Linked DNA regions of Homo sapiens: region 1 is linked to region 2. Evidence: fine-mapped expression QTL. A gene starts in region 2. The other region holds a variant in brackets. All regions are shown on one strand. Distances are between the middles of the regions. Region 1 has its middle 19 kb from the start of MFSD6L. Region 2 holds the start of CCDC42 (coiled-coil domain containing 42).

The links. PIP is the estimated chance that this variant, and not a neighbour inherited with it, causes the effect.
Region 1: its variant is fine-mapped to the expression of CCDC42 in whole blood (INTERVAL, PIP above 0.99).

The regions. Positions count from the first base shown.
Region 1 is chr17:8,778,575-8,782,961 of GRCh38, forward strand. No RefSeq gene overlaps it. Among named protein-coding and RNA genes, the nearest start is that of MFSD6L, 19 kb to the right of the region's middle. The variant CACAA/C (reference allele first, on the strand shown) is at 1,597.
Region 2 is chr17:8,742,664-8,747,050 of GRCh38, forward strand. CCDC42 (coiled-coil domain containing 42) reads right to left here and starts at 2,173. Exons shown (of 7, transcript NM_144681.3): 1 at 1,864-2,173; 2 at 1,416-1,521; 3 at 963-1,067. The coding sequence starts at 1,946. It overlaps LOC105371529 (a long non-coding RNA gene), which reads left to right and starts at 2,263. Exons shown (of 3, transcript XR_934217.4): 1 at 2,263-2,368; 2 at 3,822-3,962. RefSeq lists enhancers at 2,606-2,825, 2,886-2,995 and a silencer at 3,216-3,485.

The DNA of each region.
Region 1 (4,387 bases), 36 kb after region 2:
AAAAAGAGAGAGCAAAGACAATGGATGAAATTAGCTAAACCAAAACTAGCCTTTTTTCTGGGGGGTTGGGGGGAGAACAGTAAACACAAACCTCTGATAAGAGTAACTAAGCAAAAAGGACTGTGTTCAACTGAGTATAGCACTTTCTTGCTCATGCTTTTCACCTCATGGTTGCAAGATGGCTGTTTCTCCTCTAAGGAAAGGGAAGAGGAGGAGGTAGAGGCTACATCTGGAAAGCAGAAATCTTTACCAGACATCCTTCGCAGAATTTCTGATAAGGTGAACATTTTAAGGTGCAGAGTCTGGTAAGGTGAACATTTTACTTGAACACAATTGCTGCCAGGGACATAATGTGGGTAAAGAAGAGGGGAAATGGATATTAGGTAGGCAAGCAACAGTCTCAAGAACTATACACTAATACATTTGAAAACTTGGGTAGAAAAGGATAAATTTCCAGAAAATGTAAAATGTCATACGAAGAAATAGAAAATTACATAAACATTTGTATATAAAGTTTTCTTGAATACAAGAAAAGTGGCTCTACTGAACTCCAGGCACCAAGTTTTACCATATGTTGAACAGAGAAGCCTTATGTTATACAAGTTGTTCCATAAAATAGAAAATAGAAAAAGGAGGGAAAGCTGCTTGATTTATTTTATGAGGCTAGTATAATCATAATGAGAAAACAGGTTAAGGAAAGTGAAAGAAAAGAAAACAGAGTGAATATTAATGCAAAAAATTTTAAATAAAATATTGGCTACCCCAATCCAACGGTGTATTTTTTAAATCCTAATTTATGAGGATCAAGTTAGAGTTAGCTAATAATTCATGTTTACTTAAAAATCAGAAAGTAGGCCAGGCATGGTGGCTCACGCCTGTAATCCCAGCACTTTGGGAGGCTGAGGCGGGTGGATCACCTGGGGTCAGGAGTTTGAGACCAGCCTGGCTAACATGGTGAATCCTCATTTCTACTAAAAATGCAAAAAATTAGCCGGGCATGGTGGTGCGCGCCTGTAATCCCAGCTACTTGAGAGGCTGAGGCAGGAGAATTGCTTGAACCTGGGAGGCAGAGGTTGCAGTGAGCCGAGATCGTGCCATTGTACTCCAGCCTGGGCAACAAGAGCAAAACTCTGTCTCAAAAAAAAAAAAAAAATCAGAAAGTATATTAATATACAATCACCACAGGAATAAACTAGAGAAGGAAGAAAACCACATGATCTTAATAGATCCAGTAAATGCTTAATAAAGTTTATGATGAGTGTTATGAAAAACCAGGAATAAAAAGGAACTTCTTTAATTTAATAAAGCCTTCAGCAAACATCATACTGAAGCTTTAGATGTAGCCTGGCATGGTGCTTTTAATCCGAGCACTTTGGGAGGCTGAGGCAGGAGGATTGCTTGATGCCAGGAATTTCTACAAAAATTAAACAATAAAAACATTAGCTGGTCATGGTGGCACCTATAGTTCCAGCTACTTGGAAGACTCGGGTGGGAGGATCACTTGAGCTTGGGAGTTCAAGACGCCATGAGCTATGATCATGTCATTGCACTCCTGCCTAGGCAACAGAGTGAGACCCTGTCTCTAAAAATCAAATA[CACAA/C]ACAAACAGACAAAGACTTTAGACAGATTCTTTTTAAGGTTGAGAACACAAAAATGGTTACTCTACCACTACTATTCAACATGGCATTGGAATTCCTTGCTAACACACCAAGACCATGAAAACCACCACCACTGCCACCACCAATAACAACAAGAGGGTCAAGTGCTAGCAGGGTAAAGGCAAAATTGATTATTTGCAGATGAAATGTTTATTTACATAGTAAGCACAACAGAATTAAGAGATAGAGAGTCAGAACTAAAAACAGAGTTCAGCAAGATGGCTGGAGATGATGCCCAGCATACAGAAACTGATAGGGTTTGTTTGCACTGTCAATGACCAATTAGAAAATATAAAAATATACAAAATGATCTTTTACAATAGCATAAAAAACTGTCAAGTACTTACGACCTTATATAATGAAACTACATAAGATCTTTGTGGAGCAAAATTTAAAACTATTAAAGGACATAAAGAAGTTTTGAGGCCGGGCGCAGTGGCTCACGCCTGTAATCCCAGCACTTTGGGAGGCCAAGGCGGGTGGATCACAAGGTCAGGAGATTGAGACCATCCTGACTAACATGGTGAAACCCCATCTCTACTACAAATACAAAAAATTAGCCGGGCGTGGTGGCAGGTGCCTGTAGTCCCAGCTACTCTAGAGGCTGAGGCAGGAGAATGGCTTGAACCCGGGAGGTGGAGCTTGCAGTGAGCCAAGATGGCGCCACTGCACTCCAGCCTGGGTGACAGAGCGAGACTCCGTCTCAAAAAAGAAAATAATAATAATAATAATAATAATAAATAGAAATACATACTATATTCATAGATAAATGGCTTAACAATGTAAGGATGCCAAATCCCTCCAAATTAATGTACGAATTCAATGCAGTTCCAATAAAATTTCCAGAATTTTTTTGGGGGAAAGTGAAACACTTACTGTAAAATTTATAAGGGAGAATAAAGCCTAAAAAAGAAGAGTAAAGAGGAAAGACTCACCTTACCAAATATTGAGACATTACAAAGCCAAGTGCTAACTGTGATATTAGTGTGATATTAGTGCAGGGACAAATAGATTAATAAAACTAGAGAACTCAAAAGCAGACTTAAGTATAAAGATGTAGTGCCAGAAATCATAGAGGAAGAGTGGATTATTTAGTCTATAGCATTTTGAAAACTGGCTAAGTGGAGAAATATAAAGGTGGGTCCCTATCTTAAGTCTATTCAAAAGAAATTCCAAATGAATTAAAGACCTAAAATGAGAGTTTAAAATTAAAAGCTAATATGGAAAATGTAGTATCTTTTTAACTTGGAAGTGGGGGGGGTAGCAAGAGAGATTCTTATTTTATTTTATTTTTCTCCCTAGAATCCTTGTAGCAAGAGAGATTCTTAAGATCCTCAAGATAAATTGTAATGGGAAAATAAAAAACTTTGATTACATCAAAATAAGATTTTCTGTTCAAAAAAATATACCAAAGTTAACAAATGAGTGACAGACTGGGCAAAGATATTTCCGAAATGAAAATCAGCAAAGGATTAATATCTAGATTATACAACACACTTCTGCAAAACCACATGAAAAAAGACAAGAAACAGAACAAAAACTGGGCAAAGGATATTGTGGAAATATGAGTTTTAAGCTTCAAACACTTTGATTTGACTTTGGTTAAAATTGAGTTGGAACCAAAGGTCACGATCACAACTAGAAAACCCTCAGAGGTTAACACTTTTGAAAATGCAGAACTTTTAGTTTGTGGTCTGGCATGTTAAGAAACTTGGAAGTAACCACTCTGTCCTAACAAGTAAAAAGCTGAAAAAACTGGAAAATCAACAACTCTTCTTAGATCTGTGAGACAAGTGATGTCACAGGATAAACCAGTGCTCCCAAGATTGGAGAGACAGAGAGGTGAATACAGAGAATCAAAACATACGGAAGCAGAAACTCACAAGTAGAAACCGGCATTGTACTTGATGAGTTGCTGGAGGCTCGGCATGGACAAGTCTGAGAGATAAATATTCCAGGGGTACCCAGGCATAAGGGGGTCCCTACACTCTGGTGAATTTTACCTCCTGGAGCTCTACCAGGTTCTCACAGTGAATAATTTGAGAAAATTTCCCTCATGCTTCCATCCTGGGGATGGGAAAAGAAGCTATTTGGAAATACCAATGCATTCCATTCTTTTCAACAAAGCCTTCCTCTAGGAGAAACTATTTAACCAGTCTAACCTGCTGGGTTTTTATCAGAGCGTAATTAACTTAGGGGAAGGAAAATATCCAATTCCAACCAGCTGTAGCTTCCACATGGAGGAAGGGAAATACTCAACTCTAATTTCCTCCAACCTTCCATGTGGGAGAAGGAAAACCCTAATTCCAGTTCACTCTAACCATCCTAGTTTACCTAAGGGGAGAGGGGAGCAACTGAGAAGCACGTCTGAAGTTCACAGTCTAGGGGCATAGGCTTACTAAAAGACTGAGGCCTACTCATAGGACTATAGAATGCTCTTCTTCCCCCACACCTTACCACCACATTACTAAAGGCTTATGAACAGAAGTTTCTTTTACCCAGTACATTATGTCTGGGGAAAACAAATTACAGGGCATACTAAAAGGCAAAAACAAAATATAGAGACAGAGAAAGCATCAGAATCTGACTCATGTGACAGGGATGTTGGAATTATCAGATCAGGAATTTAACCCAAATATAATTAATATGCTAAGCGTTCTAATGGATAAAGCAGATAACATGCAAGAACAGATGGGCAATTTAAACAAAGAGATAGAAATTCTAAGACA
Region 2 (4,387 bases):
GGACAGGACTGAGGGAGTCTAAACCAGTGACTTTCAAATCCACCTGGTCATCAGAACTGCCTGGGGAACTTTTTTAAAAATATACAAGCCTGGGCCCAACCTCAGACGTGCTGAAAGCAACAAGGGAAGCCCCTGGGGTCTGTATTTGTAGCAAACTCTCTGGGAATTGAAGCTACTGACCCTCTGAGAGCCATTTGGAGAATGCCTCACGCCCAAATCTCTTCTGCCCCAACCACTCCATAAGTGTTTCTCTGGCTGCTAAGAAGAACTGGACCTCTGGAGAATGTGCCCAGTCCAAGGACTTCCTGTCCCACACGGCTTAGGCACAGAGCAGGAAGGAAGGTGCTTAAGAGCGGGGCTTCTTTGTGGCCGACGGCAATCATTACCCACTCCCGGAGCTGGACCAGGCCCTTCAGGGCTGCGTAAGTGCTACCTGGAGTGGGTCTGGATAAATCTGGATTTTTAAGACGATTAAAGTGCTCCACTAAAGACTGAAGTGAGAGAGGATGTCTTGGAATGGACTCTGGTGCCTGGTCCTTCAACCATCCCCTGCCTGGACCTTCAGTGCAAGGACAAGGATGGAGGGGTGGGGTGGGTGGAGGGACTAAAACTCTGTCTCATTCATCACTGTATTTCCCAAGTGTTTAGTCCTAACTGTAGCACCTTCATTCATTCATCCATGCATTCATTTACTGAATAAACTGTATGTCCTAGGTACTGGAAAAGAAATAGGAAACAGCCATCTAGAGGGAGCAGAGACTGATAGGTAAATGGAAAATTACAAACAGAGACAGGTGGGGGACATAAAGGACGCCTAGGGACATGCCAGGCAATGTTGGAGCACTAAGGATGCTTTTTAACTCAGGGCGAGGAGTCAGCAGAAGCAAGGAGGAGGAGTGCAGTTTGCCCACCTGCGGACTATGGATCCCCTGGCCACTGCGGCCGCCCACACCCCTTCAAACCTGGATGAACTGCTCAGACTTCTGGATGTGAGCCTTCAGTTGGGCTTCCTTAACGCCCAGTTCCTCCCAGCGCAGGTTCAGGGTTTCCATTCTGCGCTGAAACATCTTTGGGGTGGGGGTGGGAGAGCAGAGAGGTCAGGAGGGCTCCTGACATGAGTACCAAGGAAGACCCCAGCATCCCTGCCCCAGAGGCTCCATCCCCAGGCCCAAGAGGGTCCATAGGAGCCTCCCACTTTCTACCCCATGCCTGGCCCAGAGCAGAGCATCCCTGGACAGTGGTACCCCCAAGACCCAGATCCTTTCTGTTCTCCCCAAAGAGACCAGATCACCATAGAGGACTCCTGGCTCTAGCCACCCCACTCAGACAATGGAGGGCTGTCCACAGGCTCTCCCAGAGCCCCAGCCCACCCCCTTCCTTTCCTGCCCCTCTGCACTCCATCCCTGAGTCCCCACCTTCTTCTTCTGCACCATAGTTTGATGCATGATTTCTGTCTCCTTTTTCTTCTCCAGTAGCCAGATGGATGGGGACTCCGACGCCCCCTCAACATTGGGGAGTTTCCTGTCCAAGATGTGAACGCGAGAGGGCTGTGTGTTCTGACATGGGGTAGGCTGGGGCTGGGAGTAACCCGTGGAGACAGATACCCATGGGGAAGCAGAGGGGCCTCTCTCCCTTTCCGAGGGAAAGGGCTGTTGTGTTGAGAAGCATAGAGGGCCATGCAGGAGTGAGCAGGGGGAGGGTGACGGGGTGGAGACCAGCGTGATGAGGTGGACTGGTGCCAAGGTTATTTGGGGCACTGGGTTACAGGAGAGGAGGGGACAGACGGTTGGAAGATGAGGTATGGGGTGGGTGTGAGTGGTCCCAGGCACAGAGGGGTGGGCAAGCCAGGCCTCAGACACTCACTGGAGCATCTGCAGCAGCCGCTCCCCATACTGCAGCCGGAAGTACTCGGCCAGGTCTTCCTCTTCCATGATGCCCAGACTCATGGTGGCAGTGACCTCACGGCCCAGGCAGCTGACTCTTCACAGTGAAATTGTGGGTAGCAGAGCCACAGGTGGCTCAGGGGTGGTGGCTGCACTCTTGTTTCTCCCTTCGGCCTACAGGGTCCCACAGATGATGGAGTTTGAGACTCCACAGAAGGTGGCTGGAGACAGGTTGGGCGGCTCAGGACGATGTGCTGGGGCAGTTATGGGAGATGTGGTTACCTAGCAACAGGCTGCCTGGTTCTGTGGCCGGCACGTGGAGTCCAGGCGCTGCCCTCTGCCCCCTGCCCCCTGCCCCCATTGGTCCTCCCCTTGCTGGGGTCCTGCTCTCTGCTCCTGCCCTTTGCCCTCAGGAACTTCTGGGAAGGCATTAGGCCTGGTTAGATGCTGGTTGCCATGGAGCCCAGGGCCAGAGGCAGTTTCTGGTGAGTGTGGCTGAGAAGGGGCATCGGGTGGAGGAGCGGCCTTGTGCGGGCGCCCTGCTCTTAGGGCCTCCCTGGGGTTCAGGTGTGGGTGAGGGTGAGGGAGGGGCCGGGCCTTGGTGAAGAAGAGCAGAGAAAGAAAGGAGGTGCTTAGCGGCGGCAGGGGTGGAGTCGCGAGGAGGCGCGAGGTTAGAAACCAGGCGGCGGGCCCAGCACGCGGTGGGGCCGGGTGGGGAAGGGGGGACGGGCGGGGGGTGCGCGGGGACAGGCACAGGAGGAGGGCCCAGGCCAGGCCCCTCAGAAGAAGAGACTCGGGGCCTGCGCCAGTTTTTTGTTTTGTTTTGGTTTTGGTTTTGGTTTTGGTTTTTTTTTGAGACGGAGTCTCGCTCTGTCGCCCAGGCTGGAGTGCAATGGCGGGATCTCAGCTCACTGCAACCTCTGCCTCCCGGGTTCAAGCGATTCTCTTGCCTCAGCCTCTCGAGTAGCTGGGACTACAAGCGCCTGCCACAACACCCGGCTAATTTTTGTACTTTTGGTAGAGATGGGGTTTCTCCATGTTGGCTAGGCTGGTCTCGAACTCCTGACCTCAGGTGATCCACCCGCCTCCGCCTCCCAAAGTGCCGGGATTACAGGCATGAGCCACCGCGCCCGGCCCTGCGCGTTTTTGTTTGCATAAACTTAAAACGGGAAGAAATGTCAAAACACGGTAACGGAAATGACCCTATTTAAAATGTTGACTCCGTGGTGGCCGCCTTCCTTGATCCCGTCAGGCTGCGTGCATTAACTCATCTGGCTGGAGGTCGGACGTCTTCGCGTGGGACGGCGGGTGTGCGGAGGGCGCCCTGGGGTCTCCGGCTGGACTCTGGCCGGGACCTTGAGCTCGCTCCCGCCAGGCGCAGGCTCCCTCTTCTCTCTGCCTCCCTCCCTCCCACGCCCGCTACTGCCGCCACGCCCGCCACACCGCCCGTTCCGCTTCTCTCTGTCTGGGAGGGGGAGCGGGGTGGGGTGCGTGGGTTGTGGTGGGCTAGGGGTCTCGGGCGGGGGCGTGTCCCGAGCGCGGCCAGTCCGCCCCGCCGCATTGCCGGTCGTCTGGCGCCCCCTGCTGGCCGTCTGCCGCGCCCTCCATCCCGGCCCACCCCAGCCCTGCTCCCCTCCCACGCTCCGCCGGAGCCTCCCCTCCAGAGCGGACCATCACACACACCTGTCGCTTCCACCTAGTCCGGTGGGCTCAGCAGAGAAAGCAAGACAGTCCCTACCCCACGCAGAACACACCCACACAATGGCCACCCCAACCCTAAACAAGAGGTGGTTCTCCACCGGAGCCCCGGAGGAACACGCCCAGCAGGGCGACAATAAGACCGCCAAGAACGATTCAAGCTCCTCGGAGGGGCATGTTTCCTTGTTTATCCACAGAGGCTGGCACAGTCAATCTGGGCTTCCCCTCCCTTTCTTTAAGGTCGTGCCTAGGAGCTGTGCAACGCCAGCCCTTGAGGAGGAAGCCATCTGTTTCTGGAATCACCCTCCCCGCCACGTATATGAGACATATCCTTGATTGTCCGTGAAATCAGGTGGTCCAGGGCCAGGTTGGTCCATAGAGGTAGGTGTAAGACATCCTCTGCTCCTGCCCAAGGGTCTCCTCGTATCTGGAAGCTCTTTCTGCTGCTTGGTTTGGTACCTATCATGGGAGTTTTCGTGATCCTTGCACACCACCATCCCTCTCTGGAGTCTCACTGCCCTCCCAGGGACCCTGAGCAAGACGCAGGGCTGTCTCGGATTTACAGAGGTCTGTCCTATCCCCATCTTTTCCCTTCCCTTCCCTTCCCTTCCCTTCCCTTCCCTTCCCTTCCCTCCCCTCCCCTCTCCTGAGGATATAAAATAACTGAATAGACTTACAAAATGTCTAAATGATGGTTCAGTATGGTAAAGCTGTAAATTCCATCCAAATGAATTTAGGAATTTAATGCGATTGCAATCAAAATTTCAGAGAGTTTTTTTCCCCATAGATGTTGACAAAACAATGTA